Linked DNA regions of Homo sapiens. The protein of the gene in region 1 interacts with the protein of each later gene in a pairwise test. Each region holds a gene or a part of one and is shown in the gene's direction. Other genes may lie near its edges.

Region 1 (3,915 bases):
GCTCAGCGGCTTTTGGGGCAGCCACGTTAGGTGCTGGGGAATGGAAGAGGATGACACTGCCTATTTTGACTCAGATCTTCAAGGATGAGCACACCCTCCCCTGGTAGCAACTTCTGCACCCGCCGGCCACCCCGTAGGGCCCTGCCCCGCACCGCACCCGGTGGCCTCCCCGGAGGGCCGTGACCCAAGCACCGCACCCGGCGGCTTCCCCAGGTGCTGCTCCGCCCAGTGCCCCCCCAGATCTCAACGTGGTGCCACAATGCCGCCCTCTCGCACATCGTGTCCTTGGACTATGTCTTCCTTTGAAAGGTCAGTTGCCAGGGGCCCTCACGACTCCTTGGGTGTGCTTTGGGCCGGCATGTATGTCCTCTTGCCCTTCTCTTACACAGAAGAGTGGGGAGGGTGTCCTAAGAATTTGGCTTGTCCTAAGGAAAATAAAGTTGTAATTTCAAGGCACTGACCAAGGTCTCTGTACTACTCAAGAGCTCAAGAGTGGCCACGGGGGAAGATAGCCCTGGGTGTAAAAGGGCCGCAGAAGGGAATCCCCTGTGCTCTGCATTAAAAAACCCCCAGGGGACAGGAGGCTGAAGAAAGGGAACCTACCACTTCTCCATAAAATAGTGTCAGTGAGCTGTCCAGGAGGGCAGGGGATCTGCCGATAAGAGAGCATTTAGGAAAATATGCCGACTCCTTAAATTGGGTTTCGATTTTTCAGCTTTTGAAAATATTGGTTTTCTTTAGGACAGGTTTCTGTACTTGCCAACAGTTGCCAGTTATCCACCAGCAGACTGCAGGAAGAAGAGACAATCTTCACCTCCCTCCTGGGTAGGGAGAGCTGAGAATTCACTAGGCTTAGCCTAACAAAGCCCGCAGTGGACGTTTCTGCTGTACCTGTCCAAGGCGTGATAGTTCCCCAGACTTTGGGGAATATCACCGTGGGTTATTTTGTCTAGTTAAGTCCCTGTGGTGGGATAAGGATGGCTCCTAGAGCATGTCGGCATCAGTAGTTCCTGGAGTGGATTTTCCTACACCGTCTAGGTATGAAAATTTGGTGGGAGAAAAGACCCCAGGAAAGGGGAAAGCAGGAAAGTGGAGCTAAGGGATGCTGCTATAACACTCATCCTGTTGTATCTGTTCTGTTTCCCTGAACTTTGAAGATAGTTATGCTGAGTACCCCCTTTAAAATGATTTTCTTCTACACTGTACCTTCCCATGGTCATGTTCTTGGTGGGGTGTGTTTCACATGTCCAGCCCTGTGGGGTTGGGGGGACACTAGAAGAGGTAGTGGGAAGCCAGACTTTCCCACATCATTCCACCGAGGCCACGGAGGCAGGAGGAACCGAGCCTTCCCTGTGCTCGGCACTGTGTTTTTCTTCATCATGTCACTTTTTACATTAACGTGTATTTTTGCTTGCTTCCAGAAAAGCACCTACATCAGCTATGCTGTAATCCTTGCTTTTCTCACCCAATAACTGGGAATCCCCAGAGAGCCAAAACTATCTTTTTAATCTCTTATTTCTTCATCACCTAGTACCATTTGGTGCTCAATCAACGTTTACTGAGCGGAAGAAAACGGAAATAAGACATTTTCCTCAAGGAGCAGAAATCATTACACGTATTTGGTCCAAACAAATAAAAATAAAGAGAACCAATGAAGACTGAAGTAAACCACATCACGATTACATAAATGTAAAGATCTGGTTGCTTGTGTCCTTTTTATAATACATACTATGATCTTTGCCAATTAACACTGGAGGACTCTTTCTGGTCGATAAAATGTTTGGATAATTAAGTATGCTTTCATTTTATGTCCCGGTATCAAAGATGTCCATTTATTCAAAACAAAGGGAGTGAACATAAAACATAAAAAGAAAAAAAAAAAGGCCTGTGGCTCCTCCTCCCAGACACCCCCCTCCAACAGTGATGAATAGGAGGGACTGTCTCCCTCCCCCATCCCTCGGAGACTAGCCTTGCAGTGTTTTAGACTGTTTTGAAATTCTGTTCTTTAGAAGAGATTTTTTTTTTCTTCTTAATATCAAACAAAGAACTGCTGCTATTCCTTTGGGCTGGCGCAGCAGGGGCCGGTGAAATGCAGGCTGACGACGGCGCGCCAGGGGCTGAGCTCGCCCCGGTCGGCGACGCGCACACACCTTGAGTGACAGCGACCTCTTCTCTACAGGTTTTCCCCGCGGGAGCGTGGCCCTAGCGGGCGTTCGGTTTTCTTTGGAAATCGCGGAGGGGGCTGGCCGGGCGCAGCGATCCCCACCCCGGGACTCCAGCCCCGGCCGTGCGCGTCGCCGCGGACGGGCTCTGCGGGCCACGGGGAAGGTGCGAGGAGGCGCGAGCAGGCTGTGAGCCGCTGGGCGCTCCCGCGAGCCCGCTCCTCTCCGTCGGGAGCAGGGCAAAGGCGCCAGGAACAGGGCAGAGGCACAGCGCCCACCGCCTCTGCGGCCGCCTGATGTGCGAGCAGCCCGCGACGAGGCAGTGCACGCTCAGACGCCCCGCTCCTCCCGCCAGCGCGCGGCCTCGCTCCTCCTAGAGGACGCTCTCTGCGCGGGCCCTCGGAGGAGGCGGCGGCGGGGCGAGCTGCAGCGCCGGGACAGGAGGTTTGTCCCCGCCCGCGCGCCGTACCGCGGCGGAGATGGGCGAGACCATGTCAAAGAGGCTGAAGCTCCACCTGGGAGGGGAGGCAGAAATGGAGGAACGGGCGTTCGTCAACCCCTTCCCGGACTACGAGGCCGCCGCCGGGGCGCTGCTCGCCTCCGGAGCGGCCGAAGAGACAGGCTGTGTTCGTCCCCCGGCGACCACGGATGAGCCCGGCCTCCCTTTTCATCAGGACGGGAAGGTGAGTCGGCGGCCTGGCCGCAGAGGCGCCGGAGGGGGAGCGCGGCGGTGGTAGCGTCCACCTTCCGCCAGGCGTGACGTCACAGGCGCGCGCCGGGCTTGGGAGGGCGCGGGATGATAGCGCCTAGCACCTGTCTCCGGGCCTTCCCGATGAGCCGCGCTTAGGGTCCGTGGGCTTCAGCTGCATGAACCACGTTCCAGCAGTTCGGCCCTCCTGGCCCCAACGCGCCTTTGAAATACGCGGACAGTGCGCTTTCCTTCTTGGCCCGAGCGGCGCTTCGCAATGCGGGCTTGTGCACTCGTGAGGCCCGCGGACACCTCCCGCCCCTGCGCGGCGGAGCGCTCCGCCGGCTACCTGCTCCTCAGAAGTGGCCTGGAGGCTGGATTTCCTTGGCCATATCTGGTCCCTGGGCTCTCGCCGACAAAGAAGCATTGTCCGTACTGTCTGTGTGCCCAGAAATGGGAAGCGGGTGTAAGGGGAGGCCAAACTTGACTTTCTTAGTGTCGCGAGGTGGGTCAGAGCGTTACATTGACATAAAACAGATTAACAACAGAAAAACATACATCTCTTGAATATGTTTTACGTGAAAAAGACACAAAGAAATGGCAAAACCCAAATACTTTTGTGCTAGGCAGAACCAAGAGCGGCAGCTGTGGGAGAGTAAAGTGTGCGGGGAGGCTAATGGAAGATGGAACTGCTTGAACCACGTCTAGGTAGAAATCTCCGCCTTGCTCGGCTCTGGTGCCGAGTGTTTCTTTGTTCCTGGTGTAGGGAGGCCATGTTTTACAGGAGTTTTCTCTTGTTTCATGAAGAAAAGGGGGCAGTTTAGAGCACTCTTCTGTTTTTCAAGTGCTTTTAGCTTAAAATAATCCTTATGCCAGAGACATATTTTTGGGATGGCATACCCTGTCACCCTTCACGGGCTATCTGAACAGAATCTAACGTGGGAGGCAAAAAGTGGGAATAAAACAGAAGATTGAATATCAGCACAACTGTTTTCATGCTTGGTAAAACCGTACCTTTACCAGGTTTTCTTTTTCCACTGAGGTACGTGTTCCAATGGCCACTTC
Region 2 (3,915 bases), on another chromosome or scaffold:
TCGATCTCCTGACCTCGTGATCCAGCCGCCTTGGCTTCCCAAAGTGCTGGGATTAGAGGCGTGAGCCACCGCGCCTGGTCAAATTATCCTTTTCTACTATGGAATTAATGAACTCTCATTAATTGACAGTAAATATTGAATGGCTACCTGGTTCTTCTTACCATCTTCCATTGTTCAGCTGGAATGTCAAGAAAACAAAATATTTGATTCTCTAATCCAAATAAAATTAGTAAGGGGAAAGGATTCTAAACACAAAGATAAATGGGTTTGAATTTACTGCTATTTGGGGTTACATTTGTTACTAATCTCCTTCCATAAAGTGAGGACTGGTTGTATAGATAGTAACTGAGGTTGTATATAAAGTAATTGAGGACTGGTTGTATAGATAGTATTAGCTAATTCCTTTGGCTAATTCTATCTACCTCCAGGGTTTGTTTTAGAGTGTCTGTAGCTGGGCTCAAATGGGAGCTCTTCCAGAATGTACTGCCAAATGTCCTTTTCTTTGCAGCTGCGGAAACAGACAGGTGCTCGGATTGATGTGGACACAGAGGATGTAGGCGATGAGCGAGTGCTGCTTATCAGTGGTTTTCCTGTTCAGGTGTGCAAGGCCAAAGCAGCAATCCATCAGATCCTGACAGAGAATACCCCAGTGTCTGAGCAGCTTTCAGTTCCCCAGAGATCTGTGGGCAGAATCATAGGTACCACTGGATGGCTTCCTCTATTGTTTCCTTTATTCTTTACCTTTGCCCCTCTTTCACACCTTCCCAGGGTTTTTTCTGGCCTAGTTCCCCTTCACCATGTGAGGGGAAAAAAAGGGACATTGAGACCAGAGGTTTACTGTTTGTAGAACTGGTGGTAAAACCAAACCTGTTTCCTCAAGAAGTTGTATGATCTGAACCTTACAAATTGATTCTTTAAGGGTTCTAGTAGATGTATTATATTTACCTTATAATTGATTTTTAAAGGGAAGCTTGGGATGCTCATGTTATCTCAAGTCTTTCAAGACAGTGCTCTAGAGGGTACCTTTTATGCTTTCCCCTAGAGCATTGCTTAGTGCTGCTGTTAGAGGCAGAGAAATGTCCTGTCCTTGATCCGGTGTTCTGACACACTATGTAGCATATCTTCTTGTGACCTGATATGGCCATGCTGAGTGGTCAAAATGAAAATGACATGAAGTTAGCCAAAGTGTAGAGTTTAAATAAAATGGAAAAAGGAAAGAATATGGTATTCTCCTTTTCACAGTAATGATTTCAGTAGCTCCTGATTTCCATTCAACATCTTGTATTTTGTTCACTTTAGAAATGAGAACTGATTCTCTTCTCCTAGTATATACAAAACAGTGATTTCTCCAGTAGCTAAGGTTGGCCAGGAGGGAAGGGCAGGTTTTTATATATTGTTTAATGTAGGGAGAGGCGGCGAGACAATTCGTTCTATCTGTAAGGCATCTGGAGCCAAAATTACCTGTGACAAAGAATCAGAAGGGACATTACTACTATCAAGACTTATAAAAATCTCAGGAACACAGAAGGAAGTGGCAGCAGCCAAGGCAAGTAGCTAATAGACTTGAATTATACCTGAGCATGAGAAGATCCTTTTACTCTATCCCAGGTCAGAATATCATCCTTTCTCTTGTTTTCCACAGCATTTGATACTGGAGAAAGTTTCAGAAGATGAAGAACTTCGGAAGAGAATTGCTCATTCTGCAGAAACCAGGGTCCCACGCAAACAGCCAATCAGTGTGAGAAGAGAAGACATGACAGAGCCAGGTGGAGCTGGAGAGCCAGCATTATGGAAAAACACCAGTTCTAGCATGGAGCCGACTGCACCCCTGGTGACTCCTCCACCCAAAGGAGGAGGCGACATGGCTGTGGTAGTGTCAAAGGAAGGTTCCTGGGAGAAACCTAGTGATGACAGCTTTCAGAAGTCTGAAGCCCAGGCCATCCCAGAGATGCCCATGTTTGAAAGTATGTAACAAAGAGGGAGCCCATTAATCATTGAAGATAGAAATACTGGCTTAGATATTGGAGAGATTAGAAGGAATGCCTTCTCAGTCTGAGCAGCCAGTATAATATGGCTGGGGTCAGGACAGAAGATTCGGTAAGATATTTTGAAGATGGGATGGAGGTAGAATCCACACCAACAGTTGCTGGACAGTTTGAGGGTGCAGATGTTGATCACTGAAAATGATTTATGCAGGTATAAGATTCTGCTCCTAATTGTAGGAGAGAACTTGGTGCCTCTTCCACTCTGAAGCAAAGTTGATGAAAGTCTTCTTCCTTTTCCAAAACCCAACCTGAACTACTTCTTTCTTGAGACAGACTATATTGAGACAAGTTGTTACCAGCAAAAGATAGATACATGACCTTTATTAACAAAAATGAATTAACCAAGAGGATATTTGTAGTTTATTATTTACCCCAAACTTTCTGTGTCTGGGTACCCTCTGAGTAGGCCTATAATTCCTGCCTTCACTGTATGCATTTTATGTAAGCTAGCAGACCTATGTGGTGAGAATGCACAGGAGCTTGGAGGTATAAATAGACAGGGTGGGAAAGAGAGAGCTCCTTTCGCCATGTTTTACCAGCCCGCTCTGTTATAACCTCTTAGGTTATATTCTTTAATTTCCAACCTTTTAGGTTAGTTTCTGTAACAGAACAAATGAGTCTGGGATAAAGTCCTCAAAGTACTTCAAATGGTAATTGTTTTGTTTTTGTAACGGCTTAACAAATAACCTAGGTTTTCTGTTTAAAAAAAAAAGAAATACTGGCTTAGGGCATGGTGGCGCAACCTGTGGTTCCAACTACTTGGGAGGCTGAAATGGGAGAATCACATGAGCCCAGGAAGTCGAGGCTACAGTGAGCTGGGATTGCACCGTTGCACTCCAGCCTGGGTGACAGTGAGATCCTGTCTCAAAAAAAAAAAAAAAAAATTAACTATTTTTTTAAAAAGAAATACTGGCTTAGATTACCCAAAATAGGAAGCAATAAAAAGTCTTTTTTCATGAATACACTTATGTCTATCATCACAGATATTCCTTACTGGTAATAATATTTTACTTGAATTAATACTAAACATAAATATTTTTCTAAATATAAAACAGCTGATGGAAATGGCAAAATAATGCTGACACAGGAAACAAATGAGTAATACATCAAATAATTGGATTTACATGATATTGTTCCTCTAGACATACTTTTTTTTTTGAGACAGAGTCTTCCTCTGTCTCCCAGGCTGGAGTGCAATGGTGCATTCTCGGCTCACTGCAACCTCCGCCTCCCAGGTTCGAGTGATTCTCATGCCTCAGCCTCCCGAGTAGATGAGACCACAGGTGCACACCACCACATCCGACTGATTTTTGTATTTTTTAGTAGAGATGGGGTTTCACCATGTTGGACAGGCTGGACTCGAACTCCTGGCCTCAAATGATCCACCCACCTTGGCCTCCCAAAGTGCTGGGATTACAGGCATGAGCCACCATGCCCAGCCTAGACATACTTTATCAACAAGTAAAATTCTCAGCCAGATTTTATATTGCCTTTTTCATTACTGTTTTTAAAAATCATCACTATTGAAAAGGCTGTGAGCTTTCTCTTCTGTACATAGGTTTTGGCGTGGGCAAAGAGGACCTGGATTCCCAAGAAGCTCACAGACTTGTCCAGGGTCATGTAAAGAGTCAGTGGTAGAATGGGATCTGGAACAGGTCCATGTCCGTCACTGTCCATGTAAAGATTGCTGTCCATATACCTTTTTACTGATCCATGCTGTAGCTAGCATATGGAGGTTTACCTTCTGTATAATTGGTGACCGATTTGACTATGTAGCACATGACAAAGAATGTAAGCTGTTATTACTCAGTTACATGGAAAGGTACAAAGGATAGCTTAGTATCTTTCTTTAGGATATTCTTGTTTGATT

The links.
Region 2: the proteins of LANCL2 (region 1) and TDRKH interact in binary tests that used the Homo sapiens proteins (3 or more experiments, as listed by UniProt).

The regions. Positions count from the first base shown.
Region 1 is NC_000007.14:55,363,385-55,367,299, forward strand, and holds the start of LANCL2 (lanC-like protein 2), read left to right. Parts: upstream 1-1,952; 5' UTR 1,953-2,641; coding exon 2,642-2,845; intron 2,846-2,970; exon of another isoform or gene 2,971-3,355; intron 3,356-3,915. UniProt on the Homo sapiens protein: Necessary for abscisic acid (ABA) binding on the cell membrane and activation of the ABA signaling pathway in granulocytes.
Region 2 is NC_000001.11:151,776,734-151,780,648, reverse strand, and holds part of TDRKH (tudor and KH domain-containing protein), read left to right. Parts: intron 1-508; coding exon 509-698; intron 699-1,406; coding exon 1,407-1,546; intron 1,547-1,642; coding exon 1,643-1,964; intron 1,965-3,915. UniProt on the Homo sapiens protein: Participates in the primary piRNA biogenesis pathway and is required during spermatogenesis to repress transposable elements and prevent their mobilization, which is essential for the germline integrity.